2 linked regions of the Homo sapiens genome follow. The protein of the gene in region 2 interacts with the protein of the main gene of each other region in a biochemical or structural test. Each region holds a gene or a part of one and is shown on either strand. Other genes may lie near its edges.

Region 1 (7,528 bases), on a different chromosome or scaffold from region 2:
GAGAAGGAGACAGAAAGAGGGCGGGGAGAGAGACAGAGACAGAGACACAGGCCTGAGCCCCGCATGGGTCTCCCCTCGGCCCCAGGCGGCGTCACCTGCGATCCCTGAAGCCGTTACCAGTTGCGCCACCTACGGTTGGTACAGGAAGGGGCCCCCACTACCTCTGCCCCCAGGCCGACCCCTGCAAAGCCCCCAGCGTGTTCCACGGAACCCTCCCTGCTACCCGCTCCCAGCGCTCCTGTCGCCCTGGCCTGTGCTTTTGAGTCCCCCCAGGACGCACAGGGAGCCTGGAGGACCCGGGGCCCGCGGGACGGTGCTGGGACCCTCCGGTCAGGACCGGGCTGCATCAGCCTTGCGTGGAAACAGATCCTGACGGGGAAGCCCACGTACAGTGAGGACGGGGCAGCCCCCTGGGCAGCTCTCGCGTGTGCTAGATCCAGCAGTGTGTGTGCAAGGTCTTTCTTTTCTTTCTTTTCTTTTTTTTTTGGTTGACAGCTTTATTGAGATGTCCTTCACACACACCAAGCAATTCACCCACTTAACAATTCGGTAGTGGCCAGATGGTGGGGGAGGATCGCTGGAGCCCAGGAGTTCCAGACGAGCCTGGGCAGCATAGCAAGACCCCTCTCTATTAAAAAAAAAAAAAGGCAGGGCGCGGTGGCTCACGCCTGTAATCCCAGCACTTTGGGAGGCTGAGGCCGGCGGATCACCTGAGGTCAGGAGTTCGAGACCAGCCTGGCCAACATGGTGAAATCCCGTCTCTACTACAAATACAAAAAACAAATTATTCAGGCGTGGTGGCAGGTGCCTGTAATCCCAGCTACTTAGGAGGCTGACGCAGGAGAATGGCTTGAACCCAGGAAGCCAAGGTCACACCACTGCACTCCAGCCTGGGTGACAAGAACAAAACTCCATGTAAAAACAAATCAAGAAACCTCAAATCCGTCGACCCCCACTGCTGCCCTGCAGAAGGTCCTATTACCGTCCTCACCCGCCTTTACAGGTGGGGAAACTGAGGACTGCAAGCCAAACAGCTTGCCTCAGCATGAGCTGACTCATGGCTGAAACCAACAGCACTTTTGTTGAATGAGAATAACCCTTTTATTTTGAGACGGTGTCTCGCTCTGTTGCCCAGGCTGGAGTGCAGTGACGCGATCTCAGCTCACTGCCCCCTCCACCTCCCGGGTTCAAGTAATTCTCCTCCCTCAGCCTCCCAAGTAGCTGGGATTACAGGCATCTGCCACCACACCCAGCTAATTTTTGTATTTTTAGTAGAGTCGGGGTTTCACCATGTTGCCCAGGCTGGTCTTGAACTCCTGACCTTGTGATCCATCTGCCTCAGCCTCCCAAAGTGCTGGGATTACAGGCAACAGCCACCGCGCCCGGCCACAGCTCTAGTTCTTTTTCTTTTTTTTTTTTTTGAGACGGAGTCTCGCTCTGTCGCCCAGGCTGGAGTGCAGTGGCACAATCTCTGCTCACTGCAAGCTCCGCCTCCCGGGTTCACGCCATTCTCCTGCCTCAGCCTCCCGAGTAGCTGGGACTACAGGCGCCCGCTACCACGCCCGGCTAATTTTTTGTATTTTTAGTAGAAACGGGGTTTCACCGTGTTAGCCAGGATGGTCTCGATCTCCTGACCTCGTGATCCGCCCGCCTCGGCCTCCCAAAGTGCTGGGATTACAGGCGTGAGCCACCGCGCCCGGCCCACAGCTCTAGTTCTTTAATACACATCAGGTCGGTCATGGTGGCTCATGCCTGTGATCCCAGCATTTGGGGAGGTCAAGGCAGGAGCGTCCCTGAAGGCTGGCAGTTCAAGACCAGCCAGGGCAACATAGCAAGACCCCATTTCTACAAAAAATTAAACAGCCAACCAAAAAAAAAAAAAAAAAGAAAGAAAAACTTTAGCTGGACATGGTGGAGCATGCCTGTGGTCCCAGCTACTTGGGGGGTTGAGGCAGGAGAATTGCTTGAGCCCAGGAGGTCGAGGCTGCAGTGAGCCATGATTACACCACTGCACTCCAGCCTGGGTGACACAGCCAGACCCTGTCTCAAAAAATATATATGTATATTTTAAAATATTATATATTATATAATGTAAATAATATACATGCTACATATTTTATGTATACATCTATGTTATATACATTAATATAGCCAGGTGCAGTGGCTCACACCTGTGTTCCCAGCACTTTGGCGGGATTACGGGCGGGTCACCTGAGGTCAGGAGTTCGAGACCAGCCTGGCCAATATAGTGAAACCCCGTCTTTACTAAAAATACAAAAAAAAAAAAAAATTAGCCAGGCGTGGTGGTGGGCGTCTATAATCCCAGCTATACAGGAGGCTGAGGCAGGAGAATTGTTTGAACCCGGGAGGCGGAGATTGCAGTGAGCTGAGATCGCACCACTGCTCTCCAGCCTGGTGACAGAGCGAGACTCTGTCTCAAAAAAAAAAAAAAATCCAAAGGGGAAAACAGTAACTGGACAGTGCAGGAACCGGCAGATGCCCTGACCACGTGGTCAAGGTTATTACCATCAGCACGAGACAGGCCGAAGCCATGGGCTTCGACGTGGGGGGCCTGAGACAGACACACGCCACGCCCGGGACTCCCTCCATTGAGTCCTGAGGCCACCCAGGACCATCCCCACGGAGGGACGCTCTGCAGAGTGACCACCAGCTCTCCTCAATGGTCCCAAGGGCTGAGGGAGGGCAGAGGGACTGCGCCCGCTGGAGGAGACCCTGACATCTGAAGATGGGTGGCTTGTGTACCCAGGACCCAGCAAAGGGTGGCTGGTGATACTCAGGGGGCTGGGGCAGAGGGGGCCATTTGGAATCAACTTTCGCGCCCTGGCTTCGATCACAGCCTGGAGGGTTGAGCAAGAGGACAGAATTTAGGGAAGCTGGGGGAGGGAGGCCGGGGGAGGGAGTTTGGGGAGCGGGGAGGGAGTTTGGACCCTTTGGACTTCTGTAAGCGTGAAATCCTTTCCAAATGAAACGTTAAAAAGCTTTTTTTCTTTTTGGCCTCCAAGTTCATTCAGTGCTTCTCTCCATTTCACTGTAGGTTTAAACCGTTCAGTTATAAATAAATAATTTTATCCTCTGTCCTCGGCTTTCCCCCGTTTCCGGCACTGCAGACATGGGGGCTGGATTTGTCTCTGCGGCGGGGCCATCCTGGGCACTGCAGGGCCCTGCCAGGAGCTCCCTCCAAGTCGTGACAACCACGGATGTCTCCAGGCCTCACACAGGGACCCCTGGGGGCAGAATCACCCCAGGGTTAGAGGATTCCACAGACCCCAAGAGACTCTGAGTCCCATGATCCTCTGCCCTGCTGAGGTCCCAGGAGGCTGCACACATTGAAATCCACACCCTGAGTGGGAGGGAGAGAGGAGGCGAGTCCCGGGAGCTGGGGTCCCCCGGGTTTATGCCGTACGCCCCATCGGGAGTTTATTCTGGTGTCCGGTGTGAGCAGGGGGCAGACTGGATTTTTTATTTTTTATTTTTATTTATTTATGTTTTGAGATGGAGTCTTGCTCTGTTGCCCAGGCTGGAGTGCAGTGGCACGATCTTGGCTCCCTGCAACCTTCGCCTCCCAGGCTCAAGTGATTCTCCTGCCTCAGCCTCCTGAGTAGCTGGGACTACAGGCGCCCGCCAACACGCGCAGCTAATTTTTGTATTTTTAGTAGAGATGGGGTTTCACTATGTTGGCCAGGCTGGTCTTGAACTCCTGACCTCAGGCGATCCACCCGCCTCGGCCTCCCAAAGTGCTGGGATTACAGGTGTGAGGCACCGCACCTGGCCATTTTTTTCCCCAAATAATGAACACTGGTCTCTCCCCTGGGCCCTGTGGACATCGGGGCTGGATCCTTCTCTGGGGCAGGCCCGTCCTGGGCACTGCAGGGTGCTAGGCATCATCCTTGGCCTCCACCCACTCCATGCCAGGAGCTCCCCTTTCGTGACAGCCACAGGTGTCCTCAGACCTCGCCCAGGGTCCCCTGGGGGCAGAATCACCTCTTGATTGAGAATCCTGGCCTTAAAGGGGGAAGAAAACCCCCAGACAAAACTGGCAGGAGGATGTTCGCTGGGGCCTCAGGTGAGGCACTGAGGGCACTCGTGGTGGGGCCCTGCCTTCCCGAGCTCTGCATCCTGTCCCCTGCTACGTCCTGCTGTCTGTCCGTTTCCAGCTCACCCACCCACGGGACACACCTGCCACGGCCGGCTTTGCTGGGGCCACAGGGACCTCGTCAGGGAGGCGTCTCCTTGTGGGTGGCACGTGGGCATGTGTTGCTCTGAGGGCTGTGGCCATGTTGCCCACCTGGCCAGGGACCCCCGACTTGGGTGGGTGACAGCCAGCCTCCCCGCCCCCACAAAGGTTGGGACCTTGAGCCCAAAGCCCCCACCTCCTCCCCGGAGTCCGTTCTGACTCCCAGGCTCCCAAGGCAAAAGGAGGAAGTGGGGACCCAGCCTGGGCATTGGGCAACTCAACGGCCTCTGGCATTGGGCTATAAGAGGAGCTTGACCGTGGGTGCACCCTGGACCCCACCATGGCTCACCGGCCCCCCAGCCCTGCCCTGGCGTCCGTGCTGCTGGCCTTGCTGCTGAGCGGTGAGTGAGCCACGTGCCCATCCATCCAGCCTCCAGGCCCCGGTGGATTGTGGGGAAATATCCACCACGAGGTCCATCCAAAGCCCTTCTGGCACAGCTGGGGAAACTGAGGCAGGGTCAGGGGAGACTCCACTCACTGCTCGGGACCAACGCTTGCAGGGGTGGGGAGGACAAGGGCAAGGGGGAGCCCTGGCCATTTGACTCAGTTGCCTATCTGTAAAACGGGCAAAACCCAGCCCTTCCCTCCTGAGGAGCTGTTTTGGGAATTAGCTAGTAACAGGCGAATTCCTGGACAGCACCCAGCCTTCAGCAAATGCTCAGTGAATATGCATGAATGAATGAATGAGTGAATGAATGAGTGAGTGAGTGAATGAGTGAACAAATGAATGAGTGAATGAATCAATGAGTGAGTGAATGAATGAGTGAATGAGTGAATGAGTGAACGAATGAATGAGTGAATGAATCAATGAGTGAGTGAATGAATGAGTGAATGAGTGAATGAATGAGTGAATGAGTGAATGAGTGAACGAATGAATGAGTGAATGAATGAATGAGTGAGTGAGTGAAAGGGTCGAGGAGTTAGTGATGCTGGAATCAGGGGAAGAAGAGAGCATGGGCCCCCTCAGGTCCCTATCCTGAGGGTGATTTTCTTTTTCTTTTTCTTTTTTTTTTTTTTGAGACGGAGTCTCGCCCTGTCGCCCAGGCTGGAGTGCAGTGGCGCGATCTCGGCTCACTGCAAGCTCAGCCTCCCGGGTTCACGCCTTTCTCCTGCCTCAGCCTCCCGAGTAGCTGGGACTACAGGCGCCCACCACCATGCCTGGATAATTTTTTGTAATTTTTGTAGAGACGGGGTTTCAAGGTGTTAGCCAGGATGGTCTCGATCTCCTGACTTCGTGATCCGCCTGCCTCAGCCTCCCAAAGTGCTGGGATTACAGGCGTGAGCCACCGCGCCTGGCCCTTTTTTTTTCTTTTTTGAAACGGAATCTTGCTCTGTCGCCCAGGCTGGAGTGCAGTGGTGCAATCTCAGTTTACTGCAGCCTCAGCCTCCTGGGGTCAAATGATTCTCCTGCCTCCGCCTCTTGAGTAGCTGGGATTACAAGCACACACCACCACACCTGGCTAGTTTTTGTATTTTTAGTAGAGATGGGGTTTCACCACGTTGGTCAGGCTGGTCTCGAACTCCTGACCTGAGGGGGATTTTCAATGCCTCAGTTTGTTCATCTGCAAAATGGGTCTCTTTGTTGGCTGATTTTTTTTTTTTTTTTTGCTTCTTTTTTTTTATTTTGTTTTGTTTTGTTTTTTTGAGATGGGGTCTCACTCAGGCATGAGCCACTGCGCCCAGGATTTTTTTTTTTTTTTTTTTTTTTTGAGACAGAATCTCACTCTGTTGCCCAGGCTGGAGTGCAGTGGTGTGATCTCGGCTCACTGCAACCTGTGCCTCCTGGGTTCAAGCGATTCTCCTGCCTCAGCCTCCCAGGCAGCTGAGATTACAGGTGCGAACCACCACACCTGGCTAATTTTTTTTTTTTTTTTTTTTGAGACGGAGTGTCATTCTGTTGCCAGGCTGGAGTGCAGTGGGGCGATCTTGGCTCACCACAACCTCCGCTTCCTGGGTTCAAGCGATTCTCCTGCGTCAACCTCCGGAGTAGCTGGGACTACAGGCACGTGCCACCACGCCCAGCTAATGTTTGTATTTTTAGTAGAGACAGGGTTTCACCATGTTGGCCAGGATGGTCTCCATCTCTTGACCTCAGGTGATCCACCCACCTCGGCCTCCCAAAGTATTGGGATTACAGGCGTGGGCCAACCGCACCCGACCAATTTTTCTGCTTCTTTAAAAACATTTTTTTAAATTTTGTTTTAGAGACAGGGTCTTGCTCTGTTGCCCAGGCTGGAGTGCAGTGGTGTGATCTCAGTTCACTGCAGCCTTGACCTCCTGGGCTCAAGCGATCCTCCCTCCTCAGCCTCCCAAGTAGCTGGGACGACAGGTGCACACCACCATGCCTGGCTAATTTTAAAATTTTTTGTAGAGATGGGGTCCTCACAATTTTGCCCAGGCTGGTCTTGAACTCCTGAGCTCAAGGGAGCCTCCTGCCTCGGCCTCCCAAAGTGTTGGGATTACAGGCGTGAGCCACTGCACCCAGCCACCTGGTCTGCGTCTTAAAAGCCTTCCTGACTCTCAGGACTGAAAGCTGCCACCAGGGCGCCTTTGGAAATCGTCGTAATTATAACCCCCCCGGCCTGGGCGCTGAGTCCTTCCCACCAGCCAGCAGGCACTGACCGGGTTGCAGATCGGGAGACGGAGGCTCGGAGAGGCCCAGGGGCTGCTCTGCCATCCCCCCTTTCCCTGCAGCCTGGGGGCTCCCTGACGCCTGGACTCCCCCCCTGCAGGTGCTGCCCGAGCTGCGGAGATCGTGGGCGGGCACGAGGCGCAGCCACACTCCCGGCCCTACATGGCCTCCCTGCAGATGCGGGGGAACCCGGGCAGCCACTTCTGCGGAGGCACCTTGATCCACCCCAGCTTCGTGCTGACGGCCGCGCACTGCCTGCGGGACATGTGAGCGGCCGCCTCCACACCCCTGTCCGCCCGCCCCGCCCTCTTCCTCCAGCCCTGGCCCGGCCACTGTCCCTCTGCCCGGGGAGGACCCAGCTAAGCCCCGTCTGCAGACCCCAGGCCCCGCGCGCGTGGGCAGTTCTGGGGGGAGGCCCGGGGCAGGGTCGCCGAGGGAGGGGTCTGGGGCTGCACCGCGGCCTCGGGAAGGGCCGGCTGTGGGCGGCGGCGAGTGTCCAGGGCGCCGAGGAGTGACCACCCCACCCCCGCAGACCCCAGCGCCTGGTGAACGTGGTGCTCGGAGCCCACAACGTGCGGACGCAGGAGCCCACCCAGCAGCACTTCTCGGTGGCTCAGGTGTTTCTGAACAACTACGACGCG
Region 2 (7,956 bases):
TTGATATCAGCATTCAGACTCTGGAATCTTGAATGAACCTCTTCAACCGTGTTGAAATGGAAAGTCTAAAATAAAGAAAATCTTCTTTCTACAACCATTTATTTTGAAACTATAAAGTGATTCCTTGGTGTTTCCTTCTATCACATTAAATTAATGTGTTTTTATTACTAATTATTGATGATCCCAAACCCAATACTTTATTAATTTGTCATTGCAGAACAAACAATAGGAAATCCAAAATTTATGGCTTCGTGAGACAGAATGTTTACAACTTTACACATTGCTTTTACATCACTCTTTGTTACACTTGCAGTTCCACAAATGTGGGTGGTTAAGATACTAAATATTTATATATAAGTCTGCCTTTTCCAAAGAAAATAATAAATGGTATGTTCATATTTATATTCTGTATCAAATATAATTTTACTGAAAGTTCTCAGAAATAAGCAGTAAAAATAGGATTCATCCTCTATTCAGAACCACAAAGATAGTACAGACTGAAGCTTTTAAAATTTTATTACCCTATTAACATCAGTAACTCACTTATTTTAAAATAACTTCCTTAAACTTAACATTCTGGCAAAAGTTTAATTCCCCATGTATCAGTTACAAATCAAGAGGCCCTTTGTGGTTTTATGAGACCTAGGCTGGTTCCTTTATGATTAAGACACAAAGAACAAAATTGCATAGGGTACGAAGTCCACATTACTCACCGAGATATGGAATGTTTGCACTGTGCCTATGCTCCATCTGCTTTAATGGAAATGGGGGAGGAGTCCTTAAAACTATTCTTTGCTGAGGTTTTAAAGTCCCTGGAAAACCTCAAGCTAGGAACTGATATAACCCTGCAAGAAGCAACTAACAATTAGTAACAGAGGTTTTTTTTTTTTAATGGATTTAAAAAAAACATTTAAAATGCTTTCATATCTAAAGTGATGAGTAATAGAAGTTTCGCAGCCCCTTGAACTTGAATCCCAGGCTGCACCTTGCCAAGGAACAGGTGCAGTGTAATTTGCGGCAGGTATGTTAGAAGAGCCTCCACTTTTACCACTCCTTTCTGCTGAGCTTAGAGAGAGAGAGCTAGAGTTCTCTTCTCAGAATTAAAGAGTACCAAGCACAGAAGTCCTCTCCATGTCCATTATGGACAAGAAGGAAGGCTGGGCATGAGAGTGACCTGTCACATCGCCAAGGGCTGGGTCCCGCCCCTGAAGCTGCGGGTCTCCCCCTCACCTCCCCTGCAGGGCGTGCTATGCCACAGCCCACTGAGCCATGCGCAGCACCCTGGGACTACAGAACCACAGGGTCACTTTTTCTCTTTTCCTTGCAAAAAAGCAATGCCACTATCTCCACTATAATGCATTCCCTATGTCTTATTCCTCTCATTATGCTTGAAAGTAGTGTTATATAACAGGCAATATTTATGAGTTGCATATCATCATATGCAAAGCAAAAACTGGAAGATGCTAGCTCAGGAGGATGTAGTATGCCTTTCAGGAAAGCTGTCAGATTCATCCACTGGAACAGAAGCCTCGCCCTGCAGGGATTTTTGTCAGCTTTGCTCACTGCTGTCTCCTCAGCAATACGAAAAACAGTTCCTGGTACGTGGTAGGTACTTAGGAAAAACCTGATGATGAATGGAAGCCTGCATACAAGTGTGACTTTTCTGAAAGTCTGATCTCATAAAAATACAGTTCTGAAAACACAAGGTAAGAGCTCAAAGGCACAACCTTTCCATGCAGACTGTCCATTCGTAGGGAGATGGGAGGAAAGCAGACCCTTTTTTTTGTTTCTGCTGACCTTGGACAGCTGTGCTGCCGTGTTACCTCTGGTCCCCAGAAAAACCATGGCCATAGCAGATGAAATGCTGAAGGGAGAGATGAAGATGTTTCCAGCCGGATTGTTCTCACTCAACGCCAGGAACAGGTCCAAGGCGAAGCGGGTGTTTGCTGAGCTCAGCTGCTCCATGGTGAAAACTGCAACACAGAACAGGGTCCTCATGGTGCCCACTGCCCACGCCAGCAGATTAGGCAGCACTATTTCTCCAGAAGCTTCCTCAATTTCTGCCAACCGCCCTGAGGCATCCTGGATCTTGTACTTTCTCCCCGCTTTTTTATTCCAGCAGGGCAAGAACACTTTCCCAGGCCCACAAATGTGGGACCATTCTGGCCAAGGACTCAGCAGTTATAGGGGATTTTAGGGCACCCAGGGTGCCCTAAAGGGCTCTGACCTTGCAGACAGGTGAGTCTGGGGGTGGGGCGGGGGTAAGGCAGGCCCCAGCTACCCCAGCTTTAGTGGGGTGGGAGGGCCCACCCAGCCCTGGGTCTTCCCAACCTATGTGTGGGAGCGCACGTGCTTCTGAGCCTTTGATTCAAGTCTCTGATTCATTGGGCAATGAATCCATTGCCTACCTTCACCTGAACTAAGAGCCTTCTATCAGAGACTCAGCTACCTACTATGCATTAAAACTCCAGCAAAGGTATCACTGTAATTATTATAATAATATAATTCTTCCTTATTTTTGAGGTTCAAAAGGTATGAGGTCCAGTGCCCACAGTCTCAGAGCCGGTGTAGGATGTGCCAGTTTGGAAACCCACCACAGTCCAGGGTCTGGCCGTGCAGCGTCCCATCCGCCACCCACTAGCCCATCTCGATCTCCACTCTCAGAGCCCTGATTTCCCCCGAGGACAGGCAAAGAAGAACCGTGCTGGCTGCTCGGCATGTAAGCACAAAGCTGATTTCTCCTTGTTGTGAAATCGTCTCTAGAATCGCACGGGGTTCCTCCTCTCTCTCCCTGCAGCTGCAGATAGGAGCCGCGGCCTGGCCCTGGGCTGCCTGGAAACCGTCACAAACAGCTCTGGGAGGAAGGGAATTCAGGGAGAAGGGACAACATTCTGATCTCAGGTTTCAGTCTTGCCTTCCGCCTGCATCTGTCGTCCTCCCTCCCTCCCTCCCTCGCGGGCTGGCCCGGCCTGTACCCAGGCGGGGGCGGGGGATCAGAGGTCGTCTGTCTCCGTCGGGGCGCCCGGAAGGGATGGGGGCGCGAAGCTGGCGGGGAGGGCGAGCGCAGGGAGCTGCGGGTCTGAGGGGCCTGAGCCTGGGGGGTGGGGGGTGCCGGGCTGGAAGCTGAGCGAGGGAGCCTGGCCTCTCCCCGCGCCCGCCCCCGCGCCACCGCTCCGAGGCCCGGCCTTACCCGACAGGCCGCCGAGGCACGCTCCGGGCTCCGAGCTGGGTGCGAGGTCAGGAAGGAGGCACCGAGGGCCGCTGCTCTTATAGCAGGCGGAAGCGTCACCCGGGCCAGCAGCCGCGGGCGGGGCGGCGGCCCTTCCCGGTGACTGCGTAGGAGTCCGAGCTCCCGAGGTCGCCTAAGTGCAAGCAGAAGTGAGCGTGGCTTCCGGGCAGCGCCCTCCTCAGGGGCGCGGCTTCTTTCTCAGTTCAAAGCCTTTCCCCGAATCTCTGGCAAGGACCTGAAAAGCTTTTTCTTACTAAGGTGTGAATGACTGAGACGACATATTGTGACACCTCTTAGAGGGCAAATGACTCCCTTTGAGTCCCATCTATATTGGGAGCTTTCTTTGAGAGAAGGAAGCAAATTTGGGGATCTTGCACAGGGAAAAAGAGGGGCCCCCAGAATCAGATGAAACAGAACCAGTTCCAAACACCTGCTCTCTGTTTCCAAGATGACAGCTTGCTGCTGCGTCCTCAATGGTGGAAAGTGGAAGGGCAAAAGGGGCCAAATCTCATGTGAAGTCTCTCGTATAAGGGGCCAATCCCATTCATGAGGAAGGTGCCCTCATAATCCAGTCACCTCCTAAAGGCACCACCTGTTAGTATTGCATTGAGGATTGTTTCAGCATGAATTTTGCAGGGAACACAGACATTCAAAGCATAGCATTCTGCCCCTGCCCTCCAAATTCATACCCCTCTCACATGCAAAATGCATGCATTGTATCCCAGTGGCCTCCAAAGTTCCAGTATCAACTTTAAAATGTAAGTCCAAAGTCTCACCTAAATATCTTCTAAATTAGAAAGGCATAAGATTCAAAGTACAATTCATCCTAAGTGAAATTCCCCTCCAGCTATGAGCCCGTGAAATCAAATAGGTTACAGGCCTTCAAAATACAGTGATGAGACAGGCATAGGACGTACATTCCCATTCCCAAAGGGAGAAGCAGGCAAGAAGAAAGGAGTATCTGGTCCCAAGTAAGTCCAAACCCAACAAGGCAAACAGCATTAAATCTTGGGGCTTCAGAATAATCTTCTTTGATGCTGTGTCCCCCATTCCGAGCACAGGGGGGTGGAGACTGGGTCCCCTAGTGTCCAGGGGATCCACTCCCATGGATTTGCCAGGTGCAACCCATGCAGCAGCTCTCACAGGTTGAGGTCTAGGCTCTCCCAGGATAGACTTGCATGCTGGTGGCTGGACAGTTCTGGGTTCTCAGGGACAGCCCTGTTCCCACAGCTCCACTAGATATTACTCTATTTGGGGCTCTCTGCAGTGGCCCCAATCCCACTGCTCCACTAAACATTGCCCTAGTGAGGGTTTTCTGCAGCAGCCTCACCTCAGTGACAATTCTCAGACTGGGCCCCCAGGGTCCCCAACACATCCTTCAAAATCTAGGTGGAGGTGGCTGTGTCTCCACAGTTCATGCACTCTGTGCACCTGCAGAGTTAGCATCACGTGGACTCTGCCAAGGCTTACAGGAAGGGTGGCCTGACAAGGGCCTGCATAAGCCACACGTGGGATGGTGGCCAAAGAGTGCTGCACCAGAATGTGGGGGGTGGGGGGGCAGAGACTTGAGGCAGCCCTAGGCAGCAAGCCCCAAGGTTCCATGGTGTCCTGAGTCCTCCCTTAAAACTATTCTGCCCTCAGGGTCCTGGCACTCTGGGACAGGGATGAGAATCCAGAACCAGTAACCTCAGAAATGCCTTTGGGTTCATTCTTCCATTGTCTTGATAAATAGCATCTGGCTTCCTTCTACACATACTCATCTCATTATCAAATGTGAACCTGGCAGCACTCTTGGTGTTCCCTCCCAAACATGCCTTTTCATTCTTTACATGGCCAGGCTGAGAATTTTCCAAAACTTTAAGCTCTGCTTCCCTCTTGATTATAAACTTCGTTTTTAATTCATTCTCTCTGCTCACATTTTACTACAAGCAGTCAAGAGAAGCCATGCTGCACTCTCAACGCTTTGCTCAGAGATTTCTTCCATCAAATATCCTAGTTTATTGCCTTTAAGTTCTGCCATTCAGAAAACACTAGGACATAGACACAATTCAGCCAAGTTCATTGCCACTGTGTAACAAGGATGACCTTTCCTCCAGTTTCCTTTTAAGATCTCATCAAAAGTGTCTTTACCATCTATACTTCTAACCGCATTCTGATCAAGACCAGACCACTTAATTAATCTCTAAGATGATTTAGGCTCTCCCTACAGCTCTCCTTGTCTTCTGAGCCCTCACCCTTAATTTCCCTTAAAGCTCTGTTTATGTCTATACAGGCTTTTTCCAGCATGCATCTCCAAATTCTTCCAGCCTCTACCCATTACTCAGTTTCAAAGCTGTTTCCACATATTTAGGTATTAGTTATAGCAACATCCCATTCTCAGTATCAATTTCTGTCATAGTCCATTTGTGCTGCTATAAATACCTGTGATTGGGCAATTTATTAAAAACAGAAATGTATTGCTCACAGTTCTGGAGGCTGGGAAGTCCAAGAATAAGGCATCCACATATTTGGTGCCTGGTGTGGGCTGCTCTCTGCTTCCAAAATGGCACCTTGTTGCTGCATCCAAGGGGGAAATATACTGTATCTTCACGTGGCGGTGGGAGGGATGGAAAGGGATGAACGCACTCCCTCAAGGGCCCAAATCCCACCCATGACGGTTCTGCCCTCATGACTTAAGCACTTCTTAAGGCTCTACCTCTTAATACTATCACATTGGTGATAAAGTTTCAACATATGAATTTTGGGGAGACACATTCAGCCCATAAAACATCTGTTCTGTCAGGTGAGGACACAGCATTTGTCCCTTCTGCCTTTCCCACCAAATGAGAACACCGCAAGAAAATGCCCTCATCAGACACTGAGTCTGCACCTGCAGATCTCGAACTTCCCAGCCTTGGACTTCCCAGCCTCCAGAACTGTAAGAAATAGGTGTCTAGTGTTTACAAGATGTTTTGATAAAGCAGCAGGAAAAGACTAAGACAGGGGCTCTTCTTGAGAAGCCGGCCTTGTTCTTATCCCTCTTGTCTAGGAGAAATGTGTGGACACGGCCACATTACTGCCCCCGAGTCTTCCTAGCCCATCTCATCCAACAATAATATGGAGAAGTGTCAGTCTCCTAAGCGTTTTTCCTTATTCTCCTCCACCTTGAATTATTCCTGAATTATTCCTCCTGCCTCCAGCTCCTGAAAGTAGAACTTAGACTTTTTCTGGCTCTTCAAACGAGCTGCTACTGATCACCCAGAACTCTCAGAAGCATCTTGAGAATTTTTTTCTTCACTCTTCAAGTCATTTTGAATTAGCTTGTTTTCTTGTTCAGTTTAAGAAACTGCTATTAAGTGAATTGTGACACTTTTAATAAACTTGCAGCATGGTGAAATTAAAAGTCTCACAATAGCGTTTTGTAAATATGTTAAATATAATTCTTGTGGGTAAATTATTTCCATGTTGTGCTCGCTGGGTAATATATTTTATTTTAGGTACTAATATATTTTATTTTATTTTATTATTTTATTTAGGTAAAATAAAATAATATATTTTCTTTTAGGTAATTTATTTTAGGTGATTTATTTTAGGTAATATATTTTATTTTATCCTCAAAAGATAAAATGTATAGTAATCCACTAGCAGTTCAGCAACTGGAAATATTTTAAACTCAAAAAAAGCAATTTTTGTGTGCCATAGCCTGTATTTAGTATAGCAAAGGAGAAATATGAAAATAATTATTACATTTGTTTTTAATAAATAATTTTTTGAGCCTGGGCAACATAGGGAGACCCTATCTCTAAAAAACTTTAAAAATTAGCTGGGTGTGGTGGTACACACCTGTGGTCCCAGCTACTTGGGAGGTTGAGGTGAGAGGATCACTTGAACCCAGGAGTTGCATGAGGCTGCAGTGAGCTATGATCGCGCCACTGCACTCCAACCTGAGTGACAAAGTGAGAACCTGTCTCAAAAATAAAAAACAAAAAACACCAAAAAACTAATTTGTAACTTATAAACACAACTAGAAAAATAACACAAAATCATTTTACAGATAATGTTTTCTTATAATAGTCTGAGAATTTTGGGTGAGACTAATTTCATGACAGTGAATAATTTTGGCCCCTGGACAGTGGTTGCAGATAACAAGACGCTTCCAGGAAAGTCTAAAATCATTTACATTTTCCTATCTTAGGCAGCTTACGTGATTGAAATGAGAGAAACAGATAAAATAATCTCTCAGGGTTTCTTCTTTTTTCTTTTCTTTTCTTTTTTTTTTTCTTTTTGAGACGGAGTCTTTTTGTGTTACCCAGACTGGAGTGCAGTGGCACGATCTTGACTCTGCTCACTGCAACCTCCGCCTCCCAGGTTCAAGCGATTCTCCTGCCTCAGCCTCCTGAGTAGTTAGGACTACAGGTGTGCATCACCATGCCCAGCTAATTTTTTGTATTTTTAGTAGAGACAGGGTTTCACGATGTTGGCCAAGCTGGTCTCGAACTCCTGACCTCAAGCAATCTGCCCGCCTCAGCCTCCCAAAGTGCTGGGATTACAAGCAAGCCACCGCGCCTGGCCAGGGTTTCTTTTAGTCCTTTCATTTTCTGCCAAATAATGGAAGAAACCTAGCATTAAAATTTCAGCTGTGTAACACAGCTTCATCCTCCAGAGGGCAGAATTCCATCATTTATAAAATACAAATCACTGGCTTCCGCTGAGACATAAATGCCAGGACATCACGTAATTTCTCCTTT

Evidence for each region.
Region 1: of the proteins of SERPINB1 (region 2) and PRTN3, one has a biochemical effect on the other in vitro, tested with the Homo sapiens proteins (one study listed by BioGRID).

What each region holds. Positions count from the first base shown.
Region 1 is NC_000019.10:836,474-844,001, forward strand, and holds the start of PRTN3 (myeloblastin precursor), read left to right. Parts: upstream 1-4,525; 5' UTR 4,526-4,535; coding exon 4,536-4,596; intron 4,597-6,987; coding exon 6,988-7,153; intron 7,154-7,419; coding exon 7,420-7,528. UniProt on the Homo sapiens protein: Serine protease that degrades elastin, fibronectin, laminin, vitronectin, and collagen types I, III, and IV (in vitro).
Region 2 is NC_000006.12:2,838,622-2,846,577, forward strand, and holds the start of SERPINB1 (leukocyte elastase inhibitor), read right to left. Parts: upstream 3,243-7,956; 5' UTR 3,191-3,242; exon of another isoform or gene 2,976-3,190; intron 2,855-2,975; exon of another isoform or gene 2,595-2,854; intron 1,974-2,594; 5' UTR 1,966-1,973; coding exon 1,798-1,965; exon of another isoform or gene 1,749-1,797; coding exon of another isoform or gene 1,728-1,748; intron 846-1,727; exon of another isoform or gene 714-845; intron 66-713; coding exon 1-65.